Homo sapiens: one gene and its partners. The protein of the gene in region 3 purifies or fractionates together with the protein of the main gene of each other region. This does not show direct contact. Each region holds a gene or a part of one and is shown on either strand. Other genes may lie near its edges.

Region 1 (3,838 bases), on a different chromosome or scaffold from region 3:
GTACCTGAGTATCTGTGATGCTCCTCACAGTCTTGGTGCAAGAGCTGACAGAACATGACTTTGGCAGGAAACCCATGCACACCTCTTTTCCTGGTTTTGGAATTCTTAACCTGTGTTGTTTTTTATGGCTATTTGTAAGCGTAAAGAGTACTGTAAGAGCTTTGATCATCTTAGTAAGGGTCACAGGTGTCATCTGTTTAAGCAGATATTTTCTTTATCAGGGATAAGGGAACTATTACTTGATAAATATTTCTGCCCTTTGGAGAGAGCAGCATTACAGATTTGGAAACCAATAAATTTGAGTAGGCTAAAAACTTGGTGATTCAAAGTATGACTCTGTAAACCTGGTCAAGTTCCTTAAACGTTAGTCCCCTCATCTTTTAAGTGTGTACAATGTCTATCACATTGGATTGTTTTAGGAATTAACTAAGTTAGGTCCATGTTGTTTGTTAGTGTCTAGCAAAATTGTAAACACACAATGACTGTTAGCTATGATATCTGAAGGGGTAATTATTAAAGGCTTGGTTCAATTTTAGGCTCCTTTAAGGAACAGTGGATATACTGAGTAACATTTGACGGATGCTAGGAATGAAGTTATATTCTTTTTCTGTTTAATTTCAGATGTACTGGCGAAGAATATTTGGTAAAGCAGGGCATCGATCTCTCACCCTGGGGCTTGTGGAAGAATCACGTGGCCTTGGCTTGTATGATTGTTATTTTCCTCACAATTGCCTACCTGAAATTGTTATTTCTTAAAAAATATTCTTAAATTTCCCCTTAATTCAGTATGATTTATCCTCACATAAAAAAGAAGCACTTTGATTGAAGTATTCAATCAAGTTTTTTTGTTGTTTTCTGTTCCCTTGCCATCACACTGTTGCACAGCAGCAATTGTTTTAAAGAGATACATTTTTAGAAATCACAACAAACTGAATTAAACATGAAAGAACCCAAGACATCATGTATCGCATATTAGTTAATCTCCTCAGACAGTAACCATGGGGAAGAAATCTGGTCTAATTTATTAATCTAAAAAAGGAGAATTGAATTCTGGAAACTCCTGACAAGTTATTACTGTCTCTGGCATTTGTTTCCTCATCTTTAAAATGAATAGGTAGGTTAGTAGCCCTTCAGTCTTAATACTTTATGATGCTATGGTTTGCCATTATTTAATAAATGACAAATGTATTAATGCTATACTGGAAATGTAAAATTGAAAATATGTTGGAAAAAAGATTCTGTCTTATAGGGTAAAAAAAGCCACCGTGATAGAAAAAAAATCTTTTTGATAAGCACATTAAAGTTAATAGAACTTACTGATATTCCTGTCTAGTGGTATAATATCTCAGGAATCTTGGCTGAGGGTTTGGAACTGTGGGTAGAGTAGAGGGCCAGGAGTCCAGTAATAGAATTCTTGCACCATTTCTGGAACATTCTAGCTCTGGGAGGTCACGTAACCTTCTTGGGGTAGTTCAGTGGTTTAGTGGTTTATAATCCAGGTGTGCGTCAGAATCATCTGAGGAACTTTGCTAAAATACAAAAATCTGGCCTAAGTAGCTCCAGATCTACCTTCATAAAGGAATCTGACCACTCCTGGATTTGGTAATTTCCAAGTTCTGAAAATTTTACTTAGGATTTAATAACTATTAACATCTGTCCCTACATAGGTTTTCTTTCCTACTTATATACCTTATGTTCTCTTCATTCTAACCTTCATCAGTAATAGGGAAATGTTTTAATTTTATTTTTTTAGTTGAAGGGTAATGTACCAAAAAATATAGTTCAGTGAATTAAAATGAACACACATGTGCAACCATCAATTCAGGTCAAGAAATAGAAGATTGTAGCACACAAAAGCCTACTCAGCCATTCTCCCAGTCACTACTTCCTTCCTTACCCCTGGGTTATTTTTGAAATGACACTTGATGTATTTCCCTCTGTTGCTGTTATGAGAACATTGCTACAGCCAAGTGTTGTGTTTCTGTGTGCATAGGTTGATACTTAATTATCTCCCCACTTTTTAATAAACTTTTAATTTGGAAATAATTTTAGATTGACAGAAAAGTTGCAAAGATAGTGAGGAAAGTTCCTGTCTACTCTTTGCTCAGCTTCCCTTAATGTTAACATTTTATATAGCAAGATGCATTTGTCAAAGCTAACAAGTTAACATTGGTACAATCACTGTTAATTAAACTGCACACAATATTCAGATTTCACCACTTTTCCACTAATATTCTTTCATTGTTCTAGGATTCAATTCAGGAGACCACATTTCATCTAGCCCTCTTTTTTAAAAGTAAATACTTTTCAGCACTTACAGGAGTTAACTGAGCTGGGGCATCATGGTGTATAGACGCCCTGACACTGGTCATCTTGGAATTCATTTAGTTTGTCAGTGGGTGCCCTGACATTCTGTCACAACATCAATTTGGGAACATGGCATTATATTTTTATCTTTGAACTTTTTTCTTTTTGGATGACATTTGATTAATGCGTCATCTTGGAACACATTATCTTTTTTCTTGGTTATGTGATCAGGAAGATTAATCAGTTTTTCCTGTTCTTGGTATAATTCCTGCTTTTCACATACCTGTCCCTTACAGTTCTCTATATATACCCTTCCCTTATTACACAGAGAGAAATATCTATCTATACTTTTTACACAAAATATACTTCAAAAGAAACAAAACAGCCACAATTATTAACTTTTTAAATAAATGAGAATTTAATTATATCCTATTTTATGTATTCTTTTTTTATATTAAAATTACCTTTATATGCTTTTGTTGTGGTAGGAACCAGATAACATAAAATTTACCATCTTAACCATTTTAAAATTAAGGACTTTTTTTTTTTTTTTTTTTTTGAGATAGAGTCTCGCTTTGTCGCCCAGGCTGTGGTGCAGTGGCGCGATCTCGGCTCACTGCAAGCTCCGCCTCCCGGGTTCATGCCATTCTCCTGCCTCAGCCTGTAATGGCTGGGACTACAGGCTCCCGCTACCACGCCCGGCTAATTTTTTTTTTTTTGTATTTTTAGTAGAGACAGGGTTTCACTGTGTTAGTCAGGATGGTCTCCATCTCCTGACCTCGTGATCCACCCGCTTCGGCCTCCCAAAGTGCTGGGATTACAGGCCTGAGCCAGCGCGCCTGGCCAGGAACTTTTTTTAAAGTATGGTTTATTTTCTTATAAAGTAGAAATGTACTTAAGGATATAGATATCCATATATATTATATGTACCCTATATATTATATATATTCTCTGTATTTTTATATCCTCTCTATATATTATATCCTATATATAATTTCTATCTATATAATTATATATATAATGTATATATAATTTATATCTTATATATGGGTATGTATATCCTTAAGTAAATTTCTACTTTATAAGAAAATAAACCACACTTTAAAAAAGTTCCTTAATTTTAAAATGGTTAAGATGGTAAATTTTATGTGCTCATTTTATGTTTTTTATATATATATATTCTTTTGATTTTATTTTCCTGGATGTCAGAACTAATCTATAATGGAGACGAATTAATGTGGTTTAACATAAAAGAAATCTCAGTTAAATGAATATAAGTTGCTATTTATACTGTTTATACTATAAATGTATACTATCTATATTGCTTTGCATTCTTTAGTGGCAATATATACTGTTTTATGATACCTCACTGTACTGTGTCTAAAGAACTTTTCTTTTGGATGTAGCAGTAGGATTATAACAGGTCATTGGCTTGACAACACCTGCAGGTCATTACAGTGTTTTAAAAACTTTTGTCTGGTATTCATAGTAAAAAAAAAAATACTTCATATTGCAGCCCTTTTTTTGTGCA
Region 2 (4,467 bases), on a different chromosome or scaffold from region 3:
TCCTCTTGCTGGGGTCTGCTACAGCTGGTGTGAGCACGAGACCCTGACCTTAGAACATCCACCCCATTCCCAACTCCCCTGACAAAAGCTGGGTGGCCGTACTACGTATGTGGGACAGATGGCACCAGAGCAGCTCTGTGAATAAAACTTTTAATAATGTACAGCAGAAATTGGACAGGCTCATTCTTATATTAAAACAAAAGATTTCCTATATTACAATTTATTTACATTTGCATACTGAAGAGGTAAAGTGTCTAAGTGGCTATTTTACAGTCCTTTCTAATAAAATGTACAAAAACAAACAGAAGTACCGAGAATGCCGTTCGGGGGCCTTTATGGCGACGTAAGAACGGGCTTGGACTTGGTCTGTGAATCCAGAATCCAGAGGTGCAGGTAGCACTATGGATCAGGGTTAGCCTCGGGGGGCCAAAAACACGGCTTCAGTTTCTCCCCAACTCTCACTTAGTGTTAAGAGTGGCAGAGGTGGGTGTGGGAGCTTCCCAAAGACCTGCTCCATCTTCCCCAGAGGTGGAAGAGTTGGACTGTGTGTGGGGTAAGGGCAGAAGGGCCAACTGGGGAGTGGGCTAGTGGCTTGGGAGTGGACGTGTGTTGGCAGATCCCAGAGGCTACTTGTGACTCTGGGAAGAGGAGTCTAAGTTCCATCATTACCTATAAACCGCCAAGGTTCTGCTGCAGGGCGGATAGGTGGGAGGTCAGCAGGGGTAAAGACGGTCCCCCCAATGACACAATGGTATTTAAACGAAATTAGTGGCCAGTAAATTGGCCCAAAGGTTAGGGGAAGATCTCCTTTAATGCAAGGAAAGAAGCAATAATCAGTCAAATAAATAGAAGGGCCAGGAGCACTGGGGAGCCTGAGGGCAGGGACAGGGCTCTCCCTCCTCCACAAGCTTTGGCAGAGAACTGCTGGGTTGGAGGCAGAGATGCTCTAAGGCTACATACACAATACACCTCCCCTGGGGACAGGAAGGGGGCTCAGAATGAATGCAGTGATTTGAGGTCTCACCTGGGGTTCTAAACCCCAGGTCTCATCACCCGCCCCTGGTCTCTTTGTGGAGGGGGTTGTGGGGGTTCCTCTTTCTTCAGTGATCTTATATAAGAACAATAATTCTAGGCTCAAAAGGGTCGTAGAACCAATTATGAAACCTTCTGGTCTCAAAACAGGCATCTACTTACTTGAATCAGCTCTTTTTACAGTGCTCCAGGAGTAGGACCCAAGCATGTCTTGTCCACAGATGTATTCCCAGCACCTGGCACCCAGCAGGCACTTCACCCACATTTGTTGAATAAATGCCTGGAGAGGGTACAACCAGCTGGACAGTGCAAGAAAGGGCCCTAGAGCAAAAACCACTCAAGGAATTGGGGGTGGGGACAAAATACGAGAGAGACTGAGCCTCAGGGCAAAGAGGAACTCTCACTGCTGAGTGGGAACAGGCTCAGGTGCAAGGACAAACATTTCCAGTGTGATTGAGCTATGTGCGTTCAATTGGATAATTTTTTTTTTTAGGGATTTCTTTAAAAACAAATAGATTGAGAGGTAATCACAGAGATGGTTTTCCTTTTACAAAAACTTAATATTTAACAACATTAAAAAAAGTTAAAATCCAAACCCTCCCAATAAAATTAAAAAAAGAAATCAAACCACTCCAGTTAAAAGTTATGGCTTCAAAGTTATTATATACCTAAGATATGCTGACCAAATCACCACCCACAGCCGTGCTTCTAGGCTTCGTTAAATACTATACTCAGGTTAAATAACATGTTCGGCTCAGGCTGTTCCCTTCAGTAGGGCTCCTGAAGTGGATGCAAACCTCTCACCTTCCCTCCACCCTGATCAGACAGTCCAGTAAAAGAAGACCCATGCAGATGCCTCCCTCCCACCCCAGACTCCCTCCCCACTCCTTGCCCGCCCTTCCCTTCCCCACCCCAAACCCACCACCACCAAAAATATACACTGCTGTTTCCAGGATCTGGGAGATGAAAGACAGATGTAACATTCCAATCTGAGTCCCGAGATCTGGCTTCACATTCCTCGGCCCTTCCTCGATGCTGCTGAGGATGATGCCCTTGGGCTGGCTCATTTCCCATGGCTGACACTAACACCCAAGACTTCCACCAGGATTCCTTCCCTGCCCATCCCACCCACCACCCTCACATTTTGGCCCAAAAGCCTCTTTTGTCATGGACAACTGGGCCAGCTTTGGTTCCACAGTCTGAGATGGAGGAGGAGAGCTGTGCTGATGCTGGGGTGGGCAGAGTAGCCTGCCAGACACAGAGTACCACTGTGGCATGAGGGGCTCTGGGGGAGGGAGAGACCTCCAGGGAAGGGCACCAGGGAAACTAGATGCTGCTCACTACTGAAAAGAGGCACCAGCAAGCACGGACAGCATGACGACCACACCCCCGACCTGCACATGCACAGAAAGCTCAAGCAGGTAAGTGCGCACCTACAGACACACACACACACTCACACGCACGTGTAAGGGCATGGCACGAACCAGGCACAACGGGGGACGCACCTCGGCACATGCACACACGGCTGGACAGACAAAGCGGCAGATTCCGTCTCCACTGGCAGTCTCCCGGCAGCGTCCATCCCAGGGAGGAGGGGAAAGCGCGGCTCAGAGCTGCCTGTGAGAGGGGCTGCACTTCTGGTTCTTCCGGGCCACCTTGGTGTGCTGTGGGCTGGTCCCCGAAGGAAACCCTCAGGGCAGCTTAGCACTGGCAACACCTCGGTTCCTCCGGCCCCTCCCAAGCGCCCCTGTCATGGCTCCTGGCCACGTGCCAGATGCACCGGGTTTCGCGGGACTTCCCACTACAACCAGTTCGAGGTGTGGCACTGAGTTCTCCACACAATTCGCTCTCAGAGTCTCCATGCCATTAGGAGGTAAATAGAAAAGGTGTCTGTCTCAAACCCAACATGGGAGTGAGCGAGTCTCTCCCGGGCTCTGTCCCTCTTGCGGGCCAGGGCTCCTGGCCACAGAGGGCTGGGCAGAAACGAGAGGTAGGCCTCCATCGTACGCTCAACGCGGCAGCTGTGCGTAGTTCTCGCTGCCAGGAGCTCCGTGTGGAGAGAGGGAGCAGTTAGATCTTCACGTCTTCCTGCACGCTGAGCTGGGAGAGGGTCTTCTTGATGCGCAGGGCCGTCAGGCGGGCTGCGCCGTTGGCATACCAACACTCTCGCATCATCTTCCCCATCACCCGCAGTGCCTGTGCAGAGACCCAGGAGCCATCAGCTCGGTCATGCCCTGGAGAAGCCTTTCTGGTCCCTAGGCTCTCACTCATTTCCCTGCCACCTCCCGCTCAGTGCAGTCTGGCAGATCCACATCCACCCGGCGGCCGACCTTAGGGAAATGCTCTGCAAGGCTCCCTTTGTTCCCTGGCTCTTCCTTTTTTTTTTTTTTTTTTTTTTTTTTTTTTTTTTTTTTTAGAAGGAGTCTCACTCTGTCACCCAGGCTGGAGTGCAGTGGCGCAATCTTGGCTCACCGCAACCTCCGCCTCCCGGGTTCAAGTGATTCTCCTGTCTCAGCCTCCCCAGTAGCTGGGACTACAGGCACACACCACTACGCCCAGCTGATTTTTGTATTTTTAGTAGAGATGGGGTTTTACCATATTGGTTGGCCAGGATGGTCTCGCTCTCTCGACCTTGTGATCTGCCCACCTCGGCCTCCCAAAGTGCTGGGATTACAGGCATGAGCCACCGCGCCAGGCGGCTCTTCCTTTTTAAGGGACAGCTTACACAAGTGAAAGGCAAACGCTGCAGCTAACGGCCAGCTCTTTTGGTCTCACCTGCCCTCTGAAGCAAACCCTGCCCTGAGGGTTCCAAGGAGTGCGGTGAGAAGTGCTGCTCTATGATGCAACACGAAAGCATCAGCTAATATGCAATTCTGTTCTGAAATGCAGAAATGCCCTCTAGTGGTTAGACTCGTTAAAGGCAGAGCCAACCTCTCTACTTGACTAGGTAAGTTCTGGGGCTCTAATGGACGGCAAGGTGACTAGAGTCAACAATACTGTACACCTGAAATGTGCTAACAGTAGGTCTCAACTGCTCTCACTACACACACAAGCAACAAGGTGAGGTGACAGATGTGTTCACTAACTTGTGTGGTAATCATGTCACAATACATACATGTATCAATTCAGCACTTTGTACACCTTTGTTACAATTTCATTTGTCAATCACACCTCGATAGAGTTGGGAAAAAAATAAGTAAAAGGAAATGCAGAACCGCAAGTGAAAAGGAGGCCCATGAGCACTTAGCTAGGCGAAGCCTGTTCCCCTGAACACTCTTAAGACCCTAGAATTCCATGTTTATTAGTACGTATGTCACAAACATGTCCTCATGTCAACTCTTTCCACCAAATGTTGTTTCCCCCACACCCCTGATTTCATCTGCCGTCTCTCCCAAATTCACATTCTCCATCCCAATCCCAGCCCTGTCATACACA
Region 3 (4,467 bases):
GGCTTTCTTGGGCAGAGGTCCCTGAGGCCTTCCGCAGTGCATTTTGTCCCTGGGTACTCGAGACTGGAGAATGGCGATGACTTTTACCAAGCATACTGCCTGCAAACACATTTTTAACAAAGCACCTCCTGCACAGCCCTAATCCATTAAACCTTGAGTCAACACAGCACATGTTTCTGCGAGCACAGGGTTGGGGTTAGGGTTACAGATTAACAGCATCTCAAGGCAGAAGAATTTTTCTTAGTACAGAACAAACTGGAGTTCCTTATGTCTTCTTCTTTCTACATAGACACAGTAACAGTCTGATCTCTCTTTCTTTTCCCCCACAGAGCTGAGATCACACCACTGCATTCCAGTCTGAGTGACAGAGCAAGAGACTCTGTCTCCAAAAAAAAAGAAAGAAAAGGGTATTTAAGCTCCAGTCATCTGGCCCTTTCTTCCATCTCATATTTTGTGTGGCTTCTGTACACATAATAAATATGTATTCATTTTCTCCTGTTAATCTCCTAATAATCTATTTTTTTTTTGGCGTACTCAAGTATCAAAATTTCAGAGGGAAAGTTTGAACTTCCCTGCAAGGTATTTTACCCAATTTCTAAATAACTTTGACTAAGCAAGCTCCAAAATAATTATATAAAAACTTCCTCAAATTTGCCAAACATACTCTTAATTTTCTGATTCTCCTCTGCCTAGACCCATGAACTAAATCAGTCATGGCTTCAAATACCACATCTTGCAAAATAGCTAACTAGGGTTCTTTTATGGGAGGCAGGTTATACTGAGACAAACACACACACACACAGTTAGCAGAAGGGAGACATGAAGCCTGGGGTGGTTGCTTTTTGAAGACTTTTGTTTTACTTTTTTAGTCTGTGTCTTGCTATCAGTTTCCCCTCCCAGTGTCTCATGTGCCTCTTCTGCTAAATGAGTGTTGCAAAATTTTAACAATATCACCCCCACAGGGAAAAAAATTAGATCTTGTAGGGTGGAGAAAATAAATCTTATATATCACAATGGTGTGTTGACTTCCAGATCGCAACACTACCCAACAAACTCCTATTTCTTGATACAGTTGGCCCTCGATGTCCACAGGTTTGGCATCCTCAGTTTCAACCACTCGCAAATTGAAAATTAAAAAAAAAATAAAAATAATACACAACAATAATAATACAGATAAAAACAATACAATATAACAACTATTTACATGGCATTTACGTTGTATATTAGGTGTTCTAAGTAATCTAGGGAAGATTTAAAGTATACTGGAGGAAGTGAGTAGGCTATGTGCAAATACTACACCATTTTATAAGGGACTTGAGCATCTGCAGATTTTGGAATCAAGGGGCTCTGGAACCAATCCCCCAAGGGTACTGAGGAACACCTGTATTTAGTTTTTCTTGGCCTGGCATTGTGGCTCATGCCTGTAATCCTAGAACTTTGGGAGGCCGAGGCAGGTGGATCACCTGAGGTTAGGAGTTTGAGACCAGCCTAGCCAACATGGCAAAACCCCGTCTCTACTAAAAATACAAAAATTCGGCCGGGCGTGGTGGCTCATGCCTGTAATCCCAGCACTTTGGGAGGCCAAGGCAGGCGGATCACAAGGTCAGGAGATCGAGACCATCCTGACTAACACGGTGAAACCCCATCTCTACTAAAAAATACAAAAAATTAGCCGGGCGTGGTGGCGGGCGCCTGTAGTCCCAGCTACTCAGGAGGCTGAGGCAGGAGAATGGCTTGAACTCAGGAGGTGGAGGTTGCAGTGAGCCACGATCGTGCCATTGCACTCCAGCCTGTGAGACAAGAGAGAAACTCTGTCTCAAAAAAATTCTTATAGAATTAAATTTTTTCCATAGGGGAATAATAATTGAAAAATAACAAGTTTAAAAAATAGTGGTTTTAAGTGAAAACTCCACTAGAATGTAACTTCCATGAGATTTATAGAGATTTATGGCAAAAGGATCTTTCTAACTACAATTACAGTTTAAGATTGCTGTGCACTTGTCATGTGCCAGGAACCATTCTCAGTGCTTTTTCTTTTTGTTCTTTTCCTTTTATTTTAGAGACAATGTCTCACTATGTTGCCCAGGCTGGTTTTGAACTCCTGGGCTCAAGCAATCCTCCTGCCTCAGCCTCCCAAAGTGCTGGGATTACAGACATGAGCCACTGCTCCTGGCTGGTGCTTTTTTTAATGGTTTTTTTGTTTGTTTGTTTTGTTTTGCTTTTTTGTTTTGTTTTTGTTTTTTTTTAAGAAATGGGGTCCCACCATGTTGTTCAGGCTAGTCTTGAACTCCTGGGCTCAAGCAATCCTCCTGCCTCACTCAGCCTCCCAAGTAGCTAGGATTACAGGCATAAGACCCCACACCCAGCTCCCATTCTTAGTGCTTTGTAGGTACCAATGCATTTAAACTTCATTTCCCTTCCCCCTTGAGGTAGATGGTATTACCATGTGACTTTTACAAATGAGGATTTGGGGAGACAAAGGGAAGTCGTGTGAAATCAAAATCATGTGACTTATGAAACTAGTGAACCCAGGCAATTTTGCTGTACATCCCTTGTCCCTTAGGAACAATCTCGAAATGACTTACTTTTGGCAATGATGACACCCAAAAGAGCAAGAAGCACCAAGACAGAAATACAGACTCCAGCATAGATTCCTTTAGTGGTATTGGCCGTCAGTAGACTATGTTCTAGGAACAGTTGCTGAGGAAACAACAACAGATCAAAAAAGCATCTTGTTAGAAAGTTATGAAGAGAAAACATTTCCCAGAATCACTTACCCAGCCACATTTACCTGTATTGGTGCTTGGGGACTTCTGGAACATAAGGGTAAGACCAAATGATCTCAGTTTATAACCATACGGTGAAAATCTAGGACAACTTGAAACGCAAAACATATTTTACAATGATGGAGGTGTTTTCTAGCTTGCTTGAGGTTGTATTTACATAGGTGTACACATTTGTCAAAACTAAAACTGTATGCTTAAAATGGGTTTGTATGTAAATTTTTTAATTTACTGTTTTAAAAGTCAATAGGCTATTTCCACAAATACATCCTCTTGTGATATTAAAAAAGAAAAAATGTCAGGCATGGTAGCTCACATCTCTAATCCCAGCACTTTGGGAGCCCAGGCATCCTGAGGTCAGGTGTTCGAGACCAGCCTGGGCAACATGGTGAAACCCCATCTCTACTAAAAATACAAAAATCAGCTGGGTGTGGTGCTGCACGCCTGTAATCCCAGCTACTTGGGAGGCGGAGGCAAAAAATTGCTTGAACCCGGGAGGTTGCAGTGAGCCAAGATTTCGCCATTGCACTCCAGCCTGGGCAACAGAGTGAGACTCCATCTCGAAAAAAAGAAAAAAAGAAAAAAAAATTGTTTATATAAATTGACTTGATGTGATGTTATCTTAATGTGCTCAGTTATTGAATTTTGTCCTTGGTTACAGTCCTTACTTGTCTTTTTACCTGTAATAGAAGATTCTGTCTCTATCTAAATAAATAGATTTGAGAGTAGCTGCACACAGACATGGCCATGATTAACAATTCAACGCTATGCAATCATGAAGAAATGTAAAATTGTTTAAGTCTTCTGGTGCCTATCACAAGAGATCATCACCTCCTGGAATAGGCCTGAAATGTGCCTGGCTTCCTGCTGGTCCCCATTTCATGGCTTAGTTCTAATCCTAAAGAGAGCCCACCGGGAAGGTATTTTAATAGAAGGAAGGGGGAGAATCTGAGTGAAGGACAAATCTTCTCATTTGTAAAATCTTAATCCCTGGAGTCAGAATCCCAGGTCTTCTACTTAGTCACTATGTGACCATGGACAAGCTATTTAGCCTCTCTGAATCTATTTCTATGTCTAGCAATAGACATAGACAGTAGATTCAATAGGGTTCTTTGCAAGGGTACTTTCAGGTCCTTCCTGATAAACACTATGAATATAGTGGAGTAACAGCATTTGAGCCATGCTTGCTTAGAAGCGGCATAGCCAGTGTCTGGGAGTGCAAAACTATGTTGTTATTACTTTACCTACAGGGTGGGAGGGAAGTGTAATGTGGGTAGATGGAGAATGGGGTTTCAGGAGGCAGGCTTTGCTTTCATTTTTTAATTACAACACACAAATACTGCATGCTCATTTTAGAATGTGCAGCTAAGCATAAAAAAGGAAAACTAAAAAAACCACAACCAGGTCACGGACAGTGGCTCACACCCATAATCCTAGCACTTTGGGAGGCTAAGGCAGGAGGATAGCCTGAGCCCAGGAGTTTGAGACCAGTTTGGTGAGACCCTGTCTCCAGAAAAAAATAAAACTGGCCAGGCGTGGTGATGCATGCCTGTGGTCCCAGCTACTTGGGAGGCTTGGGGTGGGAGGATCACTTGAGCCTGGGAGGATGAGTCTGCAGTGAGCTGTGATCGTGCCACTGCACTCCAGCCTGAGCAATGGAGTGAGACTCTGTCTCGAATAAATA
Region 4 (4,467 bases), on a different chromosome or scaffold from region 3:
TCATCCTCAAAGAGTTACGTGTTAGAGATGCTTGGGGATTTTCAAGCATTATTCGGTTGTCAGATCTAGTATCCCGAAGTGACCTTAAGGGGGATGATGGCAAGGCCCACATGTCAGAAAACAGGGCATTCCCTAGTGGGTTCTGTATCTTAGAAAAAAGTGTTAAGTGTAGCTTGCACTCTTGCAGGATTTTTTTTTAAGTTGAAATCTGGTGGAAATGAATACCCTTCTGGAAAATAAACAGCTGTTCTTAGAGTAGCATGTTGCTTTACAACTAGATACAAAGGGGCTAGAAGGTAGGAATTGTTGAGAAGACACTAGGGTTCCTGACTTAATAGGACCCTGCAGCTATTTTAGTATTAGCCGGAACTGCCACTTTTCCCCTGCTAGTCCTCTGTTTGACTATGTCACATGCTGCTCTACCTTCCTTGTTACTAGAGATTACTTGAGACTCATTCTTCAAGGTCGGGGCCTTGGGAAATTATCCTTGTGAATGAGATAACCTGTTGGTAGGTGCTTTAACAGTGAAGTTCTGTAGCGCTGTGGTACCCTGCTGCTGTTCTCTGTGTGTGACTCTGCTTCTGCATTCGGGATGTGAAATCCCTGGCATAGGCCCAACCCTACCCATAGAGTGTAGCTATTAATGTCACCTCTCAAGGAACACATGTTTATTTCAACAGGTGTCTTTTGAAGAACATTTTCTTGAAATATTTAGCCCTCTCGTCCTGGCTCATTCCTGCATATTCTTTAGTTGTTAGCTTAGCTGCATTTTTACTGGGACATCTTCCTTGCTTTTCCACCTCTCAGCACTGTTCCTCCTGTGTGCTGTCAGAGGACTGTGTGTGTACTTCCGTTTCCTGGCTGGTAGTTGCCTTTTTACTTGTTTGTATCCCCACTGAAGACAGTATCTTGAGAGCTGGCACTGTCTTTCACCTCTATAGCCATCCTATGTAGCACACAGTTTTACACTGGCTAGGAACTCAGTAAATATTTTATGAATACATGTTTTAGTGTTAATGACAATTTCAAGTGCTATATTAGACCAGTTAGGTGTATTTTTTAAAAATTCCTTGCAAAGGCTTCACAAAGGCTTAGAGGCCATTTAAATATCTATATATAAAGGTACAATATGTAATATCTGTTTATCAATATATAAAAACAGATGTGTGTTTGTGTGTTTCAACGGGGAAATGAGGAATTGCTGGTAGAGCAAATGTAGGATGAGGAAATTGGAAGGAGCGAGGGCCAGGGTTAGAAATTTCCTTACTAGAGGTGTCCTGCGTATTTGACTCGAGCTTTCTAGCGGCAAATCAAGGTCAGTGAGGATTGTTGTTGTTTTTGGTAGGCAGGTTTTTTAGCACTCCTCAGTTTATATATATCTGAGAGGCTATCTCTTGTTACATAAAATTTTGGTGTTAAAGCTCACTGTTTTTCAGACTTCTGTCATCCTAGGACAGTCTTATTGTTAGTTGGGGAAGGTGTCACTGATGACGGTTTTCTAAAGCTACCTGTAGCGATGGTAGTATTATAAGGTGATAATAAGTGACAATTACTGTTAGTATTTTGAGACCACTGAAGCTTATGTATTTATTTGTCTCTGATTTTAGTTTACTACAGTCAGCATGTGCCAGGCACTGTGTTAGACACCTGAGAGTCTTCTTTAGCTTCAAGGTGCTTACTGAGTAGTAGGGGCAAACACATAAAAAAATATAATTTTATACAACATGATTTATAAATAAAGAAGATATATGCCTTGTACCTTAGGAGCCTCAGGGTTTGAGGAAGTTTTCCAAGAGGGTTATTCTTAGCCAGTAGAAAAAAAGTGAGGAAGATGTTCTGTCACGTCAGAGATGTGGTAGCCTGGAATGGCATGGTACCCATGGAGTGAGCAAAGATGGGAGGTGTGAAAGGCGTGGTATGTATCGGCATTCCAGCAGCACACTTACCAAGGGTTGAAAGCGTGTAGGGGAGCAGCGAGAGACATACTTGAAGACACTGCCAAGGTCGAAGAATGCTTGTTCTAGATACCATCTTAGGGATAATGAAAAAGTTCAGAAAGGGCTTTAAATGGCAGTAGCGTAGATGGATTCATAGGGGCAAGATTAGAAGCTGGGAGACCATGGATATTAGGCAAGAAATTATGAGTATTTGTTGGCAAGATACAGTGCTATTAATTGGAAAGAGTTATTTAGGAGATTAGCAAATAATTACACATTGGGTGACATGGTTGGGAGACAGCTCAGTGCAGAGATAAGAGAAAGAAGTATTGGTGAATTGCATGGTTTTGCCCCAGGCAACTGGGTGGACGGTGGAACTGTAAATTGAGAATGATTACAATAATGCTAACATTTAAGGGGTATTTAGTATGTTCCAAGCACTGTGCTGTATGCTTTACACAAAGTAACTTATTCCTCATAATAACCTGTGAAGTCGGTAAACTATTACCCCCATTTTATAGATGGGGAAGCTGAGACCTGGAGACAAAACGGAAGTCCCACTTAGCTAAGATTCTAAACCAGACATTCTGACTCCAGAACCCAGCGCATAGACTCTATATTACGGCAATATTATAGCCCATACCATTGTCAATAATAGTATGAAATTTGACATCTCCTAATCAACTTTATATCTCACACATATGGAGTGATGACAAATAATGCCTTAGGTCACCACATTAGTTGGAGAAATGTAGCATTAAATTACCGTCTCTTATAATAAATTACCATCAAATAATGAATTTGTGCCAAGTACAAGAGCACTGAATTTCCCAACAATAGATTTATAAATAACAATTGGAGGAAAGTTTAGAAGTAGGCAGTATTTTGAAAATTTGGCAGTTGCTTTTTATATTGCTTGTTTTACATTTTTAATACAAATGTAGGGGGAATTCTCAGCATCTTAGTACTTCTCTTCACATAGCTAACCTAGTGTCTTACAGTGGAAACGCATGTATTCCGTTGGAAACAGGAAGACAGGAAGTAGAGGCAGTGGATAAAGACAACCCTTTGAAGAATTTTTTTCTTTCTTTTTTTAATGGGAGCAGTGCACAAGTGCAGGGACTTGAGATGGGAGTACTGGCAGCGGAGCGGTGGGAGCGGTAGGGAAGCTCAGTACGTGAGGGGTGCAGCTGCAGAGAGTTGATCAGTGTGGTGTTGGAGCGTGTGCTTCCGTATTTTCAAGGAAATAAAAGAAATGAGGTTATGAGGCCTTCCCTTCCACTAGTCCTTTGGGACCGTTCTTGTCAAGAACCCTGGTGATGCCCATACTGCTAGACTCCCGGTCAGTTCACCATTCTCCTCCTCCTCCATTTGACAGTTCGTGATTCCCTCCTCTTTTCTGAAATGCTTTCTTCACTTGCTGGTGACCATTCTCTTTTCCCTTCTGCCTCACCGCCACTTCTTCTCAGCCTCATTTGCCTCTTGCCTCTTTATCTTCTGGACTTCAAGGTCCAGTGCACAGTAGATGGACTGCCTTTTTCTCTGTTTGCAGCCGCTCCCCAGGGGACCTCATGAAGCCCGGTGATTCTGAATGCCGTGGATCTGCCGAGGATTCCCAGATGCGTATTTCTCCTCCGTACTTCCCCACAGGACAGCAGGCTTGAATAGCTGATTGCCTATGCAGGACAACAGGCTTGAATAGCTGACTGCCTATGCATTCTCTTTGCTTGCCAGTTTTTTGGACATCAAACTTGACAGATCCAAGATTATTACTTTGATCTTCCCCACACCCCTCCCACCCCCGAGTCTACTATGGTCCCATCATAGTATTCTGAAAATCAGTGAATGGCCACTCTACCAGTTATTTCTACCAGTTTTTAGGTTCTAAACCTCAGGCATTCTGGACTCTTCTGTTCATTATCATATTTTGAAGGCATTATCTTCAAAATCTATCTAGACTCTGACCCTTTCTCCCATCTCCACCATTACTGCCGTGGCTCTTCTGCTGGTCGGCTCTCTCCTGGTGGATCGTAATAACCTGCAGTCAGCTATCCTGGTCCAGAGGGAGCCCGTTAAACCCTGTGGAATCTTATCACGCTTCTGCTCAGAACGAGCCAGTGTCTTTCTGTCTCACTCAGAGTGTAAGCTACAGTCCTTATTGTGGCCATCAGGTGCTGTGTGTTCTCCAGCCCCCTCCCCACCACCGCAGTCCTGCCGGTGATCTTAGCTGCTCTCCCCTCGGCACCCCCTGCGGCCCCCTCTGCCGCAGCACTCGTGGCCTGCTGTTCCTTGAACATGCTTGGTGTTTTCTCTCCTCAAAGGCTTCTTTCTGTTTACCTGAAATGTACTTTCCTAGGGAATCTATCTGGCTCACTCGCTTACTTTTTCCACATCTTTGCTTAAGTATTGCCTTATTGGAGAGGCACCCTACCATAAACTAGAATCCCTTGCCCCAGCTGCTCTTTGTCCTCCGTATTGGGCTTTGTTTTTGTTCTTACCAGTTAGAACCACTTGACACACGATACATGTG
Region 5 (4,078 bases), on a different chromosome or scaffold from region 3:
TGTGTCTGCCAGCCCCGACCATGGCCCCAGTGGTCAGCAGTTGATCCAGAGCCTGGCATTTACAGGGAGCTCAGCAAATGCCAGGTGAGCCAGCGCCCCATGTAAGAGCAGATATCAGAGCTCAGGTGGCTGTGACTTCAGCTTCCAAATTTAAAGCAAAGCCAGAGGCCGAGATGGAGGCTGAAGCTTCCAGGTGGGAGGGGCTGGTGTGGTCGCTGGCCCCACTGAGTTGCAGGGCCGTTCCCGGCTCTGGCAACACAGCCCAGGAGGGAGATCCCAGCTCTGAATAAGAGCATCTGGGGGTCGGGGAGGGCTCGTGGTTCAGATGGAGAAACGGAGGCACAGCCAGTTGGCAGCGTTAAGATCAGAACCCCAGCCTCCTGCCTCCCGGAGCAGGGCTAAAGCCTTCTACATCCCATAAGATCCCCTCTGTAAAGTCCCATAATGTCTCCAAAGCCAAGTGTCCTTGATTGTCTACTGTCTGGAAACTTAATCCTGCTCCTCACTATAGCAAACCTTTTCCTTCCCTTCATGGAGGAGAAAAACACATTTACGGATTTGTGTGTTTAGTGCAGCCCCCTGGTGGCTTTTTAGGGAAACACAGTTTCTTCTAATTACTCCCCGGCAGGCTTTAATCTATTGTCTATTGATCTATTAACTCATTGAATTCATTGTACAGATGGGGAAACTGAAGCCCCACCAGGGCCTGAGAGTCAGAGCTGAGCCTGGATGGAGCTCTGCCACCCCACCCCCATTTCTGGACATCACGCACCACCCACACCCCACTCACCATCACCCCCTTGACCCAGCCGAAGCGCACTGGCTCCTCGGGGTTCTTCTCGCTGCTGGTGCCTGCCTCGCCCTCCACCAGCCCATCAGTCATCTCGTGGCTGGGCCGGCTGTCAAAGGCCAGGGCATGCAGGTGTCTGCCTTCCTGCTGGCAGCCCAGAGACCACAAGTCAGGCAGGTAGGGGTGCTAGGGACGGCGTCTCTGCATCCAGCCCACTGACCTGCACCACTGCGCCCCATACCGAGCACCCCCCGACCCCTCAGCCCACTGGGTGTTGAGCTGCTTGAGGGGCTTTTAAAATGCTCCCTAGGCCAGGAGCAGTGGCTCACGCCTGTAGTAAAAGCACTTTGGGAGGCCAAGGTGGGTGGATTGCTTGAGCTTAGGAGTTCAAGACCAGCCTGGGCAACAAGGTAAAACCCTGTCTCTACTAAGAAATACAAAAATTAGCTGGGCATGGTGGTGTGCACCTGTGGTCCCAGCTACTCAGGAGGCTGACATAGGAGGATCTCTTGAAGCCAGGAGGTGGAGGTTGCAGTGATCCAAGATCAGATGCCATGGGAGACTGGGAGTCCTGGGCGCTCCTGCTCATAACACCTCCTCCCCCTAGGAGAGCAGTGGCCTTAGAAGTGATTAGGCAGTTGCCTAGCCTTGTAATGGGCGACAGGATTATTATCACCCTGGAGAGGTGAAAGCTTGTCCAAGGCCACATAGTTGGTCCCTGGAGGGCTGGGTCTTGAAACCAGGCCTCTACCTCTGGGGCACTGGGAGGTCTCCTAGTTTGTGCCCCAAGTGACTGACGCCCTCCTCTGGGGCTTTCTTCCTGGCACTTCATCTCAGTATGGAGCCAAGGGCCATGTCTTGGTTTGCTCTGGGGTGGAGAAAAGGCCTGCGAATTTAGTAAGTCTTAGCCTCAGAATCAAGAACAATTCTGGGCTGGGCGTGGTGGCTCATGCCTGTAATTCCAGCACGTTGGGAGGCCAAGGTGGGTGGATCCTTTGAGGTCAGGAGTTCAAGACCAGCCTGGCCAATATGGCAAAACCCCATCCCTACTAAAAATACAAAAATTAGCTGGGTGTGGTGGTGCGCTCCTGTAATCCCAGCTACTCGGGAGGCTGAGGCAGGAGAATCACTTGAACCCAGGAGGCAGAGGTTGCAGTGAGCCGAGATCACACCACTGCACTCCAGCCTGGGCGACAGAGCCAGACTCCGTCTCAAAAAAAAAAAAGAAAAGAAAAGAAAAGAAAAGAAAAAAGAACAATTCAGCCCAATTGTCATATGGGAAAAGTGAGGCCAGACAGGGGTCATGACAATCCACCTTCCAGCCCTCCACTCTTCACAGTCCAGCCTCCCGGGCAGCAAACCCGGCGAGCCCTCTCTCTGAGGTGAACCTTCCCAGGCCCTTCTTGCCCTGTCTCTTTCAGGGGTGTGCAACCTGCTTGCATGCTTCTACTCACTGGAAGCTCATTACCTCTCTAGGCCTCCCACTCTAGCTTTGGGTTGCTAGTGATTGGCTAATATACATTCCAACATGTGCCCAGATTTCTGCAGCTCCACTATTTCACTGGGGCCTCTCAACCCAGGAAGAAGACGCTCCTCCATCCCCATGGCACAGATGACAGAACTGAGGCTCAGAGAGGTTAGGTAGCTGGGTCGAGGTCACACAGCAGGGAAGTGGCCAGTCTTCTGAGACAGCACTTACCTTGAGGAAGGAGTGCAGGTCAGCCAGTGTGGGCCGGACCTTCCGGGGCTCACCAGGCTGGGTGCTGTTGGCATAGTGCTCATATGTGGGCACCACATCGATCGTGTTGTAGCCAAAGGTGCGCATGCAGAAGGTGCTGCTGTGGGTCAGGTGGCTGGGGTGGCTGCTGTCATAGGCAGCTGGTGGAGAGGGCTCATCACTGCTCAGCAGTGTGCTGATGGTGAAGCGCCCGCTGCACAAAGTGGCGTCCCCAGGCGTCTCTGTTGTGGGCAGTTCTGCCATTGTCGCCTGGGTGTCCAGGGAGGGGCCAGGATCCGCAAGGACACACAGGGTGGTTTTATAGGCTGCGTCTGCACTGGGGAGGAGGCAGGGAGGTTGGCCTAAACCGCCCGTGGCTGGTGAGCAGGGTCCCCGGACAGGGCCGGAGGCAGAACACCATTTGATTGTGGAGATAGGGGACCCGCCTTGGATCTGGAGGGCTGGGCTGGCCCAAAGCCAGCCACTCCCTGAGTCCTGGAGTGGCTCTTCTGAGTCTGGGGGCAGCAGAGATCTTCAGCCAGGACCCAAGAAGGAGTTGTCAGAGAGGACCCTGAGGGGCCCCATAAGGGATCCTAGAGATAGCCTGGTGGCTTTGTAGCAGGACGAGCTGCAGTCAAAACTCCTCAAACACCGACTTAAAGAAGGAAGGGGTTTATTCGGCCGGGGGGCATCGGCAAGACTCCTGTCTCAAGAGCCGAGCTCCCAGAGTGAGCAATTCCTGTCCCTTTTCAGGGCTCACAACTCTAAGGGGGTGCATGTGAGAGGGTCGTGATTGATTGAGCAAGCAGGGGGTACGTGACTGGGGGCTGCATGCACCGATCATTAGATTGGAACAAAACAGGACAGGGATTTTCAAAGTGCATTTCTATAAAATGTCTGTAATCTATAGATTACATAACCGATTAGGTCAGGGCTCGATCTTTAACTACCAGGCCCAGGGTGTGGCGCCGGGCTGTCTGCTTGTGGATTTCATTTCTGCCTTTTAATTTTTACTTTTTCTTTCTTTGGAAGCAGAAACTGGGCATAAGACAATATGAGGGGTGGTGTCCTCCCTTAGCCTGAGGACACACTCTGGGTCCTACTCTATGAGAGTTCAAAAACCTCTCATATTAGTATTTGGATTTAAAAAATTTATTTAATATTGGGAGGCTGAGGTGGATGGATCACCAGCCTGGCCAACATGGTGAAACCCTGTCTCTATTAAAAATACAAAAATTAGCTGGGCATGGTGGTGGGCACCTGTAGTCCCAGCTACTTGGGAGGCTGAGGCAGGAGAATTGCTTGAACCCAGGAGGCAGAGGTTGCAGTGAGTCCAGATCGCACCATCGTACTCCAGCCTGGGCGACAGAGCAAGACTCTGTCTCGAAAAAAAAAAAAAATTATTTAGTAGTTTTGAATAGATGAATTATATAATTTTTTTTTTTTTTTTGAGACAGGTTCTGGCTCTGTCACCCAGGCTGGAGTGCAGTGGCACAATCGCAGCTCACTGAAGCCTCAACCACCAGACTTCAAGAATCCTCCCACCTCAGCCTCCCAAGTAGCTGGGGCCA
Region 6 (4,467 bases), on a different chromosome or scaffold from region 3:
AAGCAATTCTCCTGCTTCAGCCTCCCAAGTAGCTGGGATTACAGGTGCGCCCACCACCATGCCCGGCTAATTTTCGTATTTTTAGTAGAGACAGGATTTCAGCATGTTGGCCAGGGTGGTCTCAAACTCCTGATCTCAGGTGATCCACCCGCTTTGGCCTCCCAAAGTACTGGGATTACAGGCATGAGCCACCACACCCAGCCTAATTTTTAAGAGTTTAAACTTTTTGAGACCAAAACGTTTGAGAACTATCCACTTAATGTTTATGAAACTTTAAAAGAAGACTTTTATAAAAGGTAATTTCTGTATATTTCACTGTGCGATGTGAATGATATGCTTGAACTGTCTTACATTTTAGGTTCTTGGAGAAAGGACCTCTTTTAGCATAGCATGACACCCTCCTCCTTGTCATTGCTGATTAGATATAGGAACCCCGCTGGGTTCCAGGTTCCAGTAATTTTTTGTTGTTGTTTGTTTTGAGAGGGGGGTCTAGCTCTGTTGCCCAGGCTGGAGTGCAGTGGTGTGATCTTGGCTCACTGCAACTTCCACCTCCTGGGTTCAAGCGATTCTCCCGCCTCAGCCTCCTGAGTAGCTGGTACTACAGGTGCATGCCACCATGCCCGGCTAATTTTTTCTATTTTTTTTTTTTGTAGAGATGGGGTTTCACCATGTTGGCCAGGCTGGTCTTGAACTCCTGACCTCAAATGATCCACCTGCCTTGGCCTCCCAAGTGCTGGGATTATAAGTGTGAGCCACTGCGCTGGGCTCAGGTTCCAGTAATTGGTTGTGGGTTCTGACACCAGCTGGTGCATGGCCTCTTGCTTTCTTGTGTGATTTGGTTTTTATTCCCAACTTCATGGACTGCTACTGCTTAAGCTATCTGTACCTCACCCCTCCTTTGTTAAAAGGGGAGATTAGTAAATGGGTGTTAAGAAAAGTTGTTTTTATAATATTGGCATCAAACTGAAGCTCTCTCCTAGATATAATAAAGGAATTGAAAATCTATTAAGAGAAAAAAAACACAAAATATTAAAGAAGAGAGTGGATGGTGAGGAAAAATTAGGCAGTAGTCATTTTCTTTTCCAGCTAAATACTGGTGGGTGTCTTTCCAATTTGAGTGGTTTTAGAGTTTGTTCTCCATGAATGAGAAGAGTATTCTTGATTATTCAGTAGCATAGTTGATTTTATGAAGTGAACATTGGAAATTAGGCCAGAGGGTATTTTACCTCTCTGTCTAGGAAAGCCACCAAATGCCTGCAGAATGCTTGCACATCGTTCTCCACAGGCTAGGTCCTGAGCAAATGCTAACATAATTGAATTGAACTGAGGCTTACACTTAGTCCTGAAAGGCACTTGTCTCCCCTTCTGTCTGAATGCCCTTTTGTTCCTCCATTCTTCATACTCTAACATTCCCTCATTGATCTAGTCCAGGCAGTATTCTTTAATAAAACCCCTGTACTATTGCATAACCATAATTACTCATGCTTTTGGAGTCATTGAAATGCTTCTTATTCTCCTTATGGTAGAAGGAAATCAAGATGTTTGAGAGGTCAGTCTTTAAATGACACTTGACTGCAATCTTGGCCTTCAAGTTCTGCTTGCTTTTTTTTTGTTGTTGTTGTTTAATTTTTCTTTTTTAGAGATGGGGTCTTGCTCTGTCACCCAGGCTACAGTGCAGTGGCATGCTTCTAGCTCACTGCAGCCTTGATCTCCTAGGCACAAGGGATTCTCCCCGCCGAGTAGCTGGGACTACAGGTGCATACCACCACACTTAGCTAATTTTTTTTTTTTTTTTTTTTGAGATGCTATTTCGCTCATTGCCCAGGCTGGAGTGCAATGGCATGATCTCGGCTCACTGCGACCTCCACCTCCCAGGTTCAAGCGATTCTCCTGCCTCGCCTCCCGAGTAGCTGGGACTACAGGCATGTGCCACCATGCCTGGCTAATTTTGTATTTTTAGTAGAGATGGGGTTTCTCCATGTTGGTCAGGCTGGTCTCGAACTCCTGACCTCAGGTGATCCACCCTCCTTGGCCTCCCAAAGTGCTGGGATTACAGGCATGATTCCCGGCTAATTTTTAAAAATTAGTGACAGAGTCTTGTGGTATTGCCCAAACTGGTCTCAAACTCCAGGCCTCAGGCAATCCTGCCTCATCCTCTGAAAGTGCTGGGCTTATAGGCATGAGCCACCATGCCCAACTTTTTCTGTCTTTAAGTAGAAGTATTTACCAGTTGACCTCAGCCCTGGTATTTTTCAGCCCCCAGTAGTAGTAGGAGTGTCTTGGCCTCCTTTTCATTGAGGACCAGCTTACTGAACTCCATAATGTGCCTCAGTTGAACTGACTGTTGCGTTCTGGGACATGCTTCAAGTTGCCTTTTGGTTTCCCTGTCCAGGGTCCGGAGGGTTACAGTGGACTCGTCAGTCATTCTCTGAGTTGTGAGCCTGTTGCTACTGCTGCTTTGTTATTCAGAGGCTGGGGTTCCAGGGGAGCAGAGACAGAGAAGACTGCTGAGGACTCTAGCTAGCTGCTTTGCATAAGAAAGTAATTCTGAAGACTTATGATGTGAATATATGCATTTTGCATTTGCCAGTAAATAAGTTAGTTTGTCTTTAAGAATAAATTGATTCTTTTTGGAGGGAGAAGGAGGAGTTCTGTATTTTTCTTGTCCTCTCAAATCCTTGGAAGGCATTTTTAAAGGAGCTGGCTTCAAGATCGACCAGTTATTGTTAGCGACATGGACCTAGCTAGTTCCTAATATGAGTACTGAGTTGGTAAAAGCAGATGGGTGTATGTTGTCTGCTGTGACCTGCCATTCAGGAAGTGACACCCACAGAAAAATATCTTATGACCCAGACTAGCTTGAGTAGGCTGTGGGGTGAGGGGACAAGGAGAGTCATATGATATGAGGATGAATCACTTGGATAGCATATTTGCTTTTTTCCTTTGAATTACCAGTTTGGGGACTGGAGGGAATTAGATGAATGTAAAACAACCTCAGAGGGCTGACTGGCCTGTTGAAGAAAACACTCAGGAGGGAGGGCCATAGTTTCTAGGCATCCCATATTTCCAAAGACCTTAGAAGATTAAGTTACTGTCTGCTATAGAAGATGGATTTAATCTGTGTGGCATCTCATGTCCTGGTTTCTTGCCTATCAGAATTACTTAAGAGAGCTTCATTCTAACCAAGTAGCAGAGTCTTTTTCCTGCTGTGATTTTTCTCTTTGGATAATAAGGCTGCGAGAGGAAATCTCTTCATCATTGATGAAGGAATTTCCTTAACCTCATTCCATAATAGATTTTTTTTTTTTTTTTTTTTTTTTTTTTTTTGAGGCAGAGGCTTGGTCTTGTCACCCAGGCTGGAGTGCAGTGGCGTGATCTCAGCTCACTGCAACCTCCGCCTCCTGAGTTCAAGTGATTCTCCTGCCTCAGCCTCCCGGGTAGCTGGGATTACAGGTGCATGCCACCATGCCCAGCTAATTTTTGTATTTTTAGTAGAGACAGGGTTTCACCATGTTGGCCAGGCTGGTCTCGAACTCTTGACCTCAGGTTATCTGCCCACCTTGGCCTCCCAAAGTGCTGGGATTACAAGCGTAAGCCACCATGCCCGGCCCATAATACCTTCTTTACTTCCTTCCAGTTGGTAAAGTTTTTAGTCTTTCTGTAATTGGTGCAGAACAACAGTGTGCATAATGTAACTTCGGAAATTAGAGTTTATGATGTTAAATTTCTGGCATACCACATACAGAAAGATCCCGTAGGATAAATAGGGCAGGGGTGCATGCAAAAAAAGAGAACATATAACCTGTGATAAGTTAATTCCTCATTTTTTTGGGGGAAAGATTACTTTAGAGCCCTCGATATGTGCATTAGGATATTGTATCTTTCTGGAGGGCAGGAAGCAGTACCATATTGGCATTAGATGCTGCCAGTGACTCACGATCTACCACTGAATTGGCTTCTGTACCTTTTTTTTTTTTTTTTGTGAGACAGGGTCTCGTTTGGTCGCCCAGGGTGAGGAATGCAGTGTGGGCAATCTAGGCTCACTGCAACCTCCGCCCCATGGGTTCAAGTGATTCTCATGCCTCAGCCTCTGAAGTAACTGGAATTACAGGTGTGCACCACCGCGCCCAGCTACTTTTTGTATTTTTAGTAGAGACAGGGTTTCGCCATGTTGGCCAGGCTGGTCTCAAACTCCTGGCCTCAAATTATCCACCCGCCTTGGCCTCCCAAAGTGCTGGGATTACAGGCATGAACCCTTGTACCTGGCCTGCTTCTGTGTCTTGCTCCTAGAAATGTAGCAATCCATTTACCTTGTTTGTTTGAAGCACAAAGTTAGAGGTAGGTACTTATATGAGGGAAAAGAGATGGAGAAGAGGGAAAAAGGAGCAAGGAAGAAAGAGAAGACTTAAGATGTTCTTTGGCCACAACCCTTTCTAGCAGTGGGTCTCTTAGCTGCACACACGAGCT
Region 7 (4,467 bases), about 30 Mb from region 3:
ACTAAGTTAGTTTTAATAAAATGCATCCAGAATTCCCAAGCAAAAGAAAGGAAGGGAAGTCTTAGCTAATGAGGTCAGTGTTTCTGTGGACATCGGTAGCATATGTGTTCAGGGCCTACTGTTCCAAAATGGAAGTACAGAGAAGAGTACACCAGATGTCTATCTGCTTCCAGGGAAAACCTGAACCATGAGGAGAATTGGGTTGGTTTGCTATAATTTGGTCACCATTGTTTAATAATCTGGATGTCTAAATGTCTTGCGATTTTAATTTTTGAACATTCACTAACATCTAAATAAGAGTAGAGATCTCGATCCTCTTCTCAGTTCAGCTTCTGAATCACCTGGCACCATCATTTAACTTTACTGAGCCTCTATAAAATTAAGATACAATAATGCCCTATTTCTACTCTCCACTTGATAGTGATATTCCCAGTACTCAGGCAAGAACATGTTAATTAATAAGAGCTCTTTGAATTTCTTTGAAGCTGCTGAGATGTCTGAGGTGGCATGACAACACATGGCAGGATTAATATCATTTGCACTTATTTTGGTATTTATATTAAATATAATGCAGTATTTAAATTCGCAGACAAGTCAGCTCCCCATTATCTATGTTTTAATATTTATTTGTGTCCACTTTCGAGGTGAAACTGACTGTATTCAGCATTTCAGCCCGTGTTTAAGGTGGCTTGTCCCTGAAAGGTGGAGTGTTGGGGATTCATGCAAACATTTGAGGAAGGGCACCTCCCAGAAAACTTTCTTTGGTGCCTTTTACCTCCTGCTTCTTTTACTCACTCATTGGGGTTTTGCCAGGCCTTACACTGCTCTTTCCTCAACTTCTTTCCCTCTTTGCCGCTTTTCTATTTTGTCGTTCCATGCTTGAGCATGGCCTTCCCCTCCCTCTCCTGTCAGCCCCACCCACTCTTGTCTCACCCATCATGGCCCTTCTCTTCCTCCCAGTGGTTTTGTAGGATTCGCTGCCCTGGCCACTTGGGCTGCAAGTGGCCAGTGCTCCTGTTTGGCAAGCCAGCTGTGTGGCACTGCTGGGCACGCATCAGCAGACAGTCAATGCTAGGTCCCTGTTTGTTGGTAGGAACAAGATGGAAGGCAAAGAGTACCAGTGTCTCTCCTCACCCCAACCCCATCGTCTGTGTTTGACCCCACTCCTTCTCTGGACTCCTTGGCCTCTGTTTACTACATGGAACAGTGAGATGGGAATGTCAAATTATCTGTAGAGTGTTTCAATGCTAATCTGAAGAAGAGCTATCAGGCCTCATTACTCATGTGAATTGACACCAGTATGTAAGCACTGAATTAAATCTATTGTCGAATGGATTTTGGAAAGCATTATAGCAAGCATTAAGCAGGTACCCAAATGGGAGGACAGCCATCCTATTTTCCTAACTGTAGAAATTCTATTTAGTCTTTCAACAAGCATGAGGTTTTCCCCATCCTTTTGGGGATTAGTTCAGTCAAGATGGCAGCATAATCAAGATGTCAGAGGTGGTCCTAAGTGAGGAGGTTCAGGATCCAAAAGCCAAGAGTGGGCATTAATGAGTTCATGGGGTCAGGTGAGTATTATTCCGTGTTTGGTATCCCCAAGACCATCCTCAGGCTCAATTATTCACTAAAAGTACTCACGGGACTCAGAAAAAACTGTTATACTTATGGTTATGGTTTATTACAGCAAAGGGATACAGATTAAAAGCAGAAAAGGGTGAAGGTGCATGGGGTGAAGTCCAGGAGAAACAAGACACAGGCTTCCATGTGTCCTTTTCTAGTGGAGTCAAACAAATATGCTTAATTCTTCCAGCAATGATTTGTGACAACATGGGCGAAGTATTTGCCAATCTGGGAAGCTCACCTGAGCTTTAGTATTCAGGATTTGACTGGGATCAGTCACACAGACATGCAATATCTGCATGACTGACCTCAGCTACTCAAACTCCAGGCTCCCAGGGCAAAAATAGGTGTTCACCATAAATCACATTGTTGGCATAAAGTGTCTCATCATACTAGTATTGTGGGCCCAAGGCCTCTGGCATGCAAAATACTCTTATCAGGTAAAATGTTACTAGGACTCAGAGCTCATCTCTCAGAAGCTGGTCAAGAGCCAGTCCTAAAAACAGGCCTGTCTTGGGAATGTGCGGGGCTTGAGCAACTCAACCGTTTCCAGCACATATTCCCAGGGTGAAGACACTGGAAGGCTTTGGACACATGACTGAACTTCTCCTACCTCAGCTGTCACCTTCCAAGCGTAACATTCTCTCTTCCTTCCACATGGGATCATTGTGATTCTGAATAGTAACGACTATTTTCACAAAAAGTAGGTCATCTACAGCAAGGACACTATAAATTATTATTGTTATTTGTATCATATCATTATTATTCAGGGGGTGGAGCATGGGAATGAGCCCTGAACACTTCCTTGTTATCTCATAACAAGTCAGAAATGCCTTTTCCCAAGGTTCTGAAGGCAAAGATAACTTCAGAACAGCGTGTCTCCACTCCACACTGGCATTTAACCCTCTCCCTTGCTCTTCTCTGTCTCCCTTTACCTGGCAGTGGCTGAGAAACCCTGGCCCCCAGCATGAGAAGCGGACTCTGTTTGGCGACATGGTGTGCTTCTTGTTTATAACTCCCCTGGCCACCATCTCGGGCTGGCTGTGCCTGCGGGGCGCCGTGGACCACCTGCACTTTAGTAGTCGGCTGGAAGCCGTCGGACTGATTGCACTCACTGTCGCACTCTTCACTATTTACCTCTTTTGGACACTAGTAAGTATGGGCCGTGGCTGGGGTTCAGGCCATTTGGAGCTGGCAGCCTCACAGCTGGCACAAGCCTTTCCTCTTGTCTGTAACACATCTCACCTGCCCGGTAGAAAACAGACCTTCGATTGCTGGCGGGAGCATGAGATTTGGTTTATGACTATGTGTGTGTGTGTGTGTTTGTCTGTGTGTGTGTCTGTGCTGCTAAGGCGGATCACATAAAGAAAAAGTTTGGCTTCTGGGTGTCCATCAGTCAAAGACACAGACACACCATGGACGTTTCTCTCCTCTAGTAGTCTAGGACTCCATCTGTTATGAGTCTTGGCATTTTCTTTCCCTTGTTTATGTTTCTCATTTTTGCCGGGATTGTAGTATATTATGAATGATGCATTTGGCTGCTGTTGCTGTCACTGCCTGCACAGATCGTGAATCCTCCCTGCTGGTTATTTCCTTCTTACGTCCTGACACAGCCTAAAGTCTTTGTTGGACGTGGAGCCGCACTTTGCCTGGTGATTATTCTGTGTGTTGGGATATTGACTCTGCTGCCCATAAAAGCACTAATTTATCTAGCTGAGAAGCTGCCACCAAAGAAAGGCCATTTCCCAATAAGTGTTCTCGCTGTGTGTGAGGAAGAATTTTTACATATCACTTTTTTCATTCTTTTAACTTTTAACTTCATGCAGTAAGTTGATCGCTTGAGTACCAGTTGACAGCACCCACAAAATGCAACATTTGATCTCTCTCCTTATGCTTTCCTCTGGGAGCTGCAGGGAAGGACATCACTGTCTTCTAGAATATTTTCAGAAGCTGGGCCCCCTGCTTCCTGGCATTACTCTCCTGTGCCTGCTCGTTTCTAATCTGAGCACGTTCCACTGTTATTCAATATGTATTTCCTGTCTAAAGTGTACCATTCCCATATCCCATAGCACAGTGTCAGCATGTGGAAGCTGCTTCTAGCACATACTTCCTCCCTTTCTGTGTCTCCCAGACCCTGTTCCTCCAGCTGCCACTCCCACAACCCTGTTCATTTCCCTCTTCTTCATCATATGGCTCTTCCAGCTCTGTGCCTCCCCTCCAGTGAGAGTGTTCAAACAGTAAGGAGATACATTTCAGTTTCAGTAAAGAGGGAGTGTTCTAATGCTAAGAACTTATCTGAGTCTTATGGTTAATTTAGACATTCTGTTCCCAGGCTAGTGAAGCCCCAAGCAAAACTATTATTGCTTCCTTTAGAAGTCTACGCTTCCAGCTGGGCGCGGTGGCTCATGCCTGTAATCCCAGCACTTTGGGAGGCTGAGGCGGGCGGATCACTTGAGGTCAGAAGTTCGAGACCAGCCTGGCCAACATGGCGAAACCCTGTCTCTACTAAAAATACAAAAATTAGCTGGGCATCGTGGTGCATGTCTGTAATACTAGCTATTTGGGAGGCCAAGGCAGGAGAATTGCTTGAACCTAGAAGGCAGAGTTGCACTGAGCCAAGATCGTGCCACTGTACTCCAGCCTTGGTGACAGAGTGAGACTCCATCTCAAAAAAAAAAAAGTCTACGCTTCCAAAGTTCATCCTGGTTCATTTTGAATCAGGCAACGAAGCTGTTCCAGTAGCTTCCATTGTGATGGGAGGAGGGTTAGAAATAAGAAATGAAGGAGTCTAAGCAGCACTATCTAACTCCTGGTCAACAGCACCACCCTGGGAAAGTCATTTGG

What was found.
Region 1: the proteins of HAVCR1 (region 3) and ABCG2 purify together in Homo sapiens (affinity purification with mass spectrometry, with the first as the bait; one large-scale study listed by BioGRID). This does not show direct contact.
Region 2: the proteins of HAVCR1 (region 3) and ACVR1B purify together in Homo sapiens (affinity purification with mass spectrometry, with the first as the bait; one large-scale study listed by BioGRID). This does not show direct contact.
Region 4: the proteins of HAVCR1 (region 3) and STAM purify together in Homo sapiens (affinity purification with western blotting; one study listed by BioGRID). This does not show direct contact.
Region 5: the proteins of HAVCR1 (region 3) and SLC12A3 purify together in Homo sapiens (affinity purification with mass spectrometry, with the first as the bait; one large-scale study listed by BioGRID). This does not show direct contact.
Region 6: the proteins of HAVCR1 (region 3) and PI4K2A purify together in Homo sapiens (affinity purification with mass spectrometry, with the first as the bait; one large-scale study listed by BioGRID). This does not show direct contact.
Region 7: the proteins of HAVCR1 (region 3) and MARCHF3 purify together in Homo sapiens (affinity purification with western blotting; one study listed by BioGRID). This does not show direct contact.

The regions. Positions count from the first base shown.
Region 1 is NC_000004.12:88,089,165-88,093,002, reverse strand, and holds the end of ABCG2 (broad substrate specificity ATP-binding cassette transporter ABCG2), read left to right. Parts: intron 1-621; coding exon 622-769; 3' UTR 770-2,734; downstream 2,735-3,838.
Region 2 is NC_000012.12:51,992,746-51,997,212, reverse strand, and holds the end of ACVR1B (activin receptor type-1B isoform a precursor), read right to left. Parts: intron 3,229-4,467; coding exon 3,103-3,228; 3' UTR 135-3,102; downstream 1-134. UniProt on the Homo sapiens protein: Transmembrane serine/threonine kinase activin type-1 receptor forming an activin receptor complex with activin receptor type-2 (ACVR2A or ACVR2B).
Region 3 is NC_000005.10:157,034,662-157,039,128, forward strand, and holds part of HAVCR1 (hepatitis A virus cellular receptor 1 isoform a precursor), read right to left. Parts: intron 2,701-4,467; coding exon 2,586-2,700; intron 1-2,585. UniProt on the Homo sapiens protein: Phosphatidylserine receptor that plays an important functional role in regulatory B-cells homeostasis including generation, expansion and suppressor functions.
Region 4 is NC_000010.11:17,709,780-17,714,246, forward strand, and holds part of STAM (signal transducing adapter molecule 1), read left to right. Parts: intron 1-3,489; coding exon of another isoform or gene 3,490-3,601; exon of another isoform or gene 3,602-4,467. UniProt on the Homo sapiens protein: Involved in intracellular signal transduction mediated by cytokines and growth factors. Upon IL-2 and GM-CSL stimulation, it plays a role in signaling leading to DNA synthesis and MYC induction. May also play a role in T-cell development.
Region 5 is NC_000016.10:56,863,929-56,868,006, reverse strand, and holds the start of SLC12A3 (solute carrier family 12 member 3), read right to left. Parts: upstream 2,801-4,078; 5' UTR 2,772-2,800; coding exon 2,490-2,771; intron 938-2,489; coding exon 791-937; intron 1-790. UniProt on the Homo sapiens protein: Electroneutral sodium and chloride ion cotransporter, which acts as a key mediator of sodium and chloride reabsorption in kidney distal convoluted tubules.
Region 6 is NC_000010.11:97,646,314-97,650,780, forward strand, and holds part of PI4K2A (phosphatidylinositol 4-kinase type 2-alpha), read left to right. Parts: intron 1-4,467. UniProt on the Homo sapiens protein: Membrane-bound phosphatidylinositol-4 kinase (PI4-kinase) that catalyzes the phosphorylation of phosphatidylinositol (PI) to phosphatidylinositol 4-phosphate (PI4P), a lipid that plays important roles in endocytosis, Golgi function, protein sorting and membrane trafficking and is required for prolonged survival of neurons.
Region 7 is NC_000005.10:126,876,493-126,880,959, reverse strand, and holds part of MARCHF3 (E3 ubiquitin-protein ligase MARCHF3), read left to right. Parts: intron 1-2,565; coding exon 2,566-2,775; intron 2,776-4,467. UniProt on the Homo sapiens protein: E3 ubiquitin-protein ligase which may be involved in endosomal trafficking. E3 ubiquitin ligases accept ubiquitin from an E2 ubiquitin-conjugating enzyme in the form of a thioester and then directly transfer the ubiquitin to targeted substrates.